Linked DNA regions of Homo sapiens: region 1 is linked to region 2. Evidence: fine-mapped expression QTL. Tissue or cell type: aorta. Region 2 holds a variant in brackets; the other region holds the start of a gene. All regions are shown on one strand. Distances are between the middles of the regions.

Evidence for each region. PIP is the estimated chance that this variant, and not a neighbour inherited with it, causes the effect.
Region 1: DPP3-DT starts here. The variant in region 2 is fine-mapped to the expression of DPP3-DT in aorta (GTEx, PIP 0.98).

The regions. Positions count from the first base shown.
Region 1 is chr11:66,478,771-66,481,370 of GRCh38, forward strand. It overlaps DPP3-DT (DPP3 divergent transcript), which reads right to left and starts at 1,479. Exons shown (of 4, transcript NR_120586.1): 1 at 1,269-1,479. It overlaps DPP3 (dipeptidyl peptidase 3), which reads left to right and starts at 1,664. Exons shown (of 18, transcript NM_130443.4): 1 at 1,664-1,695. RefSeq lists enhancers at 490-1,057, 1,634-1,803 and a silencer at 1,444-1,493.
Region 2 is chr11:66,050,106-66,052,857 of GRCh38, forward strand. It overlaps SF3B2 (splicing factor 3b subunit 2), which reads left to right and starts at 2,259. Exons shown (of 22, transcript NM_006842.3): 1 at 2,259-2,412; 2 at 2,568-2,614. The coding sequence starts at 2,280. RefSeq lists enhancers at 1,257-1,808, 1,627-1,676, 2,297-2,466 and a silencer at 1,877-2,086. The variant G/A (reference allele first, on the strand shown) is at 1,438.

The sequences.
Region 1 (2,600 bases), 430 kb after region 2:
ATGGGGAAGAGCCAAGGCTGGGGAGTTATGACTCCAGTGATAGACTGCTCCATGTGAGTGACTGTGTGTGTGTATCTCTATGTTGGGGCCAGGGATATCTGAACTGTGTGGTGTTATAGGAGTCGGCGAACCTCTTAGCCTCAGTTTCCCTATCTGTACAATGGGTAAAGTGATCATACCTCAGGATTTTTGCAAGAATTAAATGAGGTCCTCCATGCCAAACTGCTAGCAAGGGACCTCAGTATATGCTCATCTTATCTGTGATCATAAAAATGTGATCACGTAGCTGGTTGGGGGGTCCTGAGAGCACTGGGGTCTTTTCCTTGCCTGAGCTGCCCCCTGCTGGCAGTGGGCAGCACTACCTCCCTTACCTGTGCACATTTCAACTTCACCTGTCAGCCAACTTTATACCCATTTTAAAGACAATGAAAACGGAGGCACAGGAAAGAAGAGGGGTGACTTTCCTAAGGACACCGACCAACTTGTTGAACTCCCCCATATAACAAGTAATCATCAAAGCTAACAGCTTGTAACACTGTTGTGTCAAGCAGGGCCTTGGGCACCTTTGTGGATGAGAAACTGGTGTCTATGGTAAGCAGAGGCTGTCTGGCCTAGACACGGGCGTAGCAAGGAGACCGTGCGGGATTTCAGTACCCAAACGCCCCTCACCCTGCGCAACTATAGGGAGCGGCACTGCAGTCAACACATCACAACTTACAATATCCCTTGGATTGGATTCAATTATTAGCCTGGTTTTCCGGTTCATAAAGCCAAGACTCCCAGACAACCTCACTCCACCCCCCAGTCTGACCCTGGGCCCTCACCACTACTCCCCATTTGGCCTAGGCCCTTCCGCATGCCCCACCCAGACCGTGGTCCCGTGAGTCCGTCCAGACCTGTAAAAGTGGACCGCGGGCCCGCCTCTGCTCTGGACTCCCTTTCGGGGCCGCAGGAGGCTTTCTCATCCATCAGGCATCTGGCAAGCACCAGGAAACTACCAGCCTGTTTGTGCTAAGGAAACTGAGGCTCGGGAATGTTTAGCGGCTCCTTCCAGGCCCGTGGCGGGTGGGTGGTGGTACAGTGAAGCAGTCGAGGCGTTTCTCCGCGCCCCTACACGGGTGGGACCACCTCAGCCCTGGCCCGATCCCACTCAACCGTAGCCCCGATTCCCGGCACCGAGAGCTTTGCAACTTCCAAGTCTCCACCCCCAGGTCCCGAGTCCCGAGAGGAAGGTGGAGCCACATTACTCCTATTGTGTAGGTTCCCACCTGCAAGAGTGCTGTCGGGTCCTCTGAGGTGAAACCCCAAAGGAAAGCGGGATCGGGACTGGGGGAGGGGGATTCCCAAGTCCCTGACACCCGCGCCGTCTCGGCCTGGGCTTGGTGACCTCGTCAGTCCCGTCTGCCGGGACTAGGCCGCGGCCAGGCCGGGCACAGCGGTACCCGGTCCGGCGCGTGTGCGGCCTGCTGACAAAAGGCCGAGCCCGCAGGGCCAATCCGCGCGCCACCCCGTAGCGCCTGGGGGCGGGAGCGGGCGAGCCGAGAAGCTCGTCTTGGCGCGTCTATTGGCTGGTACTGACGCCCATCCGGACCCCGAGGCCAGGCAGTTGGCCAAGGGGGGCGGGGTTCGCAGAGCCCCAATGAATGGGGGAGCCGGAAGCAGGAAGTGAGTTTGCGAACGGAGCAGCTGCTGCAGGTGAGGCGCGGCGCCTGGGCTTTTGGGGTCAAAGCGTGTCATCCCGGGGGACCAAGGCGAATCCATACTGAGCGCAAAATCGTTCCCTTTCTGCCCACTCTCCAGTACCCCCTCCAAATTCACCCCGCCCTCGAGGCCAAGGAGTGCTCCGGGGAGCAAAGAGTTAACAGCCCTTTCCGAACCTCGAGGCTGTGCTATTGGGGCGGGGCTTCTGGAGGCCGGGGCAGGGCGAGGAGGCTGGACACTCTGTCCCAGCCGGGACGGGGCGTGGCGGGGAGAATGCCCCGGGTTGGGGAATCCCCGGGTTCCAACGGGGCTGTCAGACCTTCAGTAAATTGTTGCCCTTTCCAAGCCTCAGTTTCCCTATCTGTAAAATGGGCTTTCTTCTGGTTGTGAACTTCTGTGGCTTCCCTGGTGGAGCACAGGGAGCGAGCAGGAGAATGGAGGGCCAAGGAAAAGGCATTTAGAGGGATGAGAATGGGACAGTTTCAAGCAAAATCATTTATTGCTGTGGATACTTTCCGTCCAGGGCGACTTCATCTGATTAGCGCACCCACCTGGTAATATTGGGGTTATTCTCTCTTTTATAGAGGAGGAAACGGAGGTACAGAAAAGTGAAGCAATGGACTTGACTTTTAGGAGTCTGGGGCCGAGTCCTGGCTAAAGGCTGAGCCTTCCAGCTGGCGGCCTGGCACTTTATCCTTGTGAGCACAGTGGAAAGTGTAAAGAATTCTGAACAAAGGCCAGGCGCGGTGGCTCACGCCTGTAATCCCAGCACTTTGGGAGGCCAAGGCAAGCAGATCGCTTGAGGCCAGGAGTTCGAGACCAGCCTGGACAAAATAGCGAGACCCCGTCTCTATCAAAAATACAAAAAATTAGCTGGGCATGGTGATGCACGCCTGTAG
Region 2 (2,752 bases):
GGAAGGGGCTGGATACGCCCTTCTAGGCCCACATAGGAAATAGTGTGAGGGTCCTTGTTATGGTTGAGGAGGAGGAAATAGGGACTCTCAGAGTCAGAAGGACTGCTGGTGGCCCCAGTTTGGCCTCTTGGGCATGTCACCTTCTCTGCCCATCAATCTTCCGCTGTGTACAATATCGTGGGGGAGGAGGATCTTGAGACCTTGCCTCCTTCCCAGGGCTGTTATAAAATGAGACTCCAGGCCGGGTGCAGTGGCTCACGCCTGTAATCCCAGCACTTTGGGAGGCTGAGGCGGGCGGATCACGAGGTCAGGAGATCGAGACCATCCTGGCTAACGCGGTGAAACCCCGTCTCTACTAAAAAAAATACAAATAAATTAGCTGGGCGTGGTGGCGGGCGCCTGTAGTCGCAGCTACTCGGGAGGCTGAGGCAGGAGAATGGCGTGAACCCAGGAGGCGGAGCTTGCAGTGAGCGCAGATAGAGCCACTGCACTCCAGCCTGGGCAACTGAGACTCTGTCTCAAAAAAAAAAAAAAATAAATAAATAAATAAAAAATAAATAAATAAAATGAGACTCCATCAGCCTTTAGTTTATCCTGCCTCAGAGACCCCGCCCCCTTCCCTAGCACCTACACATGCCTTGGGGCCCTCAGCCTCAGATGACCTGCCCTGGGCTCTCCAGTTACAGGGAGCAGAAGAGCCTTCCTTTGGGCTAGAAAGGTTCTGCCTGAGTGGGCTGACAAGCTGGAGGGAAGGGCGCTGTTTTTCTGTCTTCGTTACTGTCCTTTCCGGGTTTGGCTTCTCCTCTGGGAGTGTGGCTGCAGGAGCCTCCCATAGTGATATTGATGGAAAGGGGAAAGGTCAAGGTTTGGGTAGGAGGAAGAGGACTTCCCACCCAGTGCTAGGATGTGAGCCAACCTTTCTCAACCCAGTCCTTTTCCCTGTCTCTCCCAAACCTCACCTTCCCCCGACCTGGTGCCCCATTCTTTTTTTTTCCCTGTTCCCAGCTTCTTCTCCACTGGGGGCAGTTGGCAAAATGGAGCTGGAGAAAAGATCTGAAGGGGATGTGTAGGGGGAAAATGAGACCATTTCACTTGAGTCTCCCCACTCCCTTTCTCAACACACATAAAAAACACACACAGGCTAGCTGTTGGTGAGAGGGCAGAGCTAGTGGCAGAGGTGGGGAGAGAAACTGAATTGATGGTGTGGGACAGGGAGAGGTGGATGCTAGGCAGGCAAGAATCCCTGCCAGTCTCTGCCTCTGTCTCCAAAGGCCAAGGGGAGTTGGGGTGGGGAGTGGGAGGCAAGGTGGGGCCCCCAGTGCAGGTGCGGCTGAGGGAAAAGGGCCTGAGTTTATTTTTGAGACTAAAAAAGACACAAATGCTTTCACCAGAAACATTGTTCCTTTTTTTCCAGTAATCATTTATTGGGCGCCTCTT[G/A]AACGCCAGGCGATGCGAGACTGAAAATGATCAAGTCCCTGCTCACATTTTTGGGATAGAGGTAGGAAGAAAGGGCAAGAAAGACTTAACAAACGGTGGAGATTCGAACGTATTATGGGAGCTCTAAGAAAGGAAAGGAAAGCGGGAGGAGGCTTAGTGGAGAAGACGACATTTGAGCCGGCCTGGAAGGTGGAAAAGGGGGCTTTAGAGTCGCCCTTCCCCCAGGTCGGCAGCTGGAGCTCAGCCCGGGCAGGCCTGCTGCTCTCCCGGCTTGGATCCCCTTTCAGCCCATTCATCCGGGCCTGGGCCGGGGGTGGGCGGGCAGACAATCAGACACTGTTTTATCCCAGGCATCGGCTCCAGCCTCCCGCTTGGCGCCCGCAACGCGGGGCCGCCGGGGAAATGAGTCTCTCGGGACTCCCTGGGAGCGTAAGCGTTCGAGGATCTGACCGGAGGGCCGGGCCGGAAAGCTTGAGAGCCTTCGCTCCCGCAGGTGAGGCGCAGAAAACACTCCCTCGGGGAAGTGCCAGCCCTCCTCGCAGCCCCGCCCTCCGGCCCGCCGCCGGCCTTCGGGGCCGTAGCGGCGCGCAGGGCCCGCAGAGACCGAGACCTGCGCACTACAACTCCCAGGAGGCCTCGCGACCAGACCGCCGAGGGGCCACTAGAGAAAGGTGCGTCTGCGGCGAATCCCGTCGCCCAGCGCACGGCAGCGGGTGTGCCTGAGTGCGCGTCGCCTCCCAACCAGAGAGGACGTGGCATACGGCGCCACCGGAAGTTCCGGCAAGTGGGCCCTGAGGCTGGCCCCAGCTTCCGGGTTGGTCGCGCGCCTTCCTGCGGCTAAGATGGCGACGGAGCATCCCGAGCCTCCCAAAGCAGAATTGCAGCTGCCGCCGCCGCCACCTCCAGGCCACTATGGCGCCTGGGCTGCCCAGGAGCTTCAGGCCAAGTTGGCAGAGATCGGAGCTCCGATCCAGGGTGAGGAACACAGGAAGTCGAGGGGCCTTTACGGGCCTGCGGAGAAGCGGAGCCTGGTTACCCGGGAGACTCGGGTGCGAGGGGCGGAGGCAGGCCGCTGGGGCCTGACCTGGCCGGGCTGGCCTGCCCCATTGATCGTGTACTTTGCCCTGCAGGTAATCGCGAGGAGCTGGTGGAGCGGCTGCAGAGCTACACCCGCCAGGTAGGTGTTGGCGGCGGGACGTCAGGATAGGCCGAGCTTCTCCAGGAGACCTTATATACCCCATCACGGCTCGGTCTTCATTCTTTCTTTATCTCGGCACAGCAAGGCGGAGGCTTGCCCTTTTTAGCTTGTTCTTGC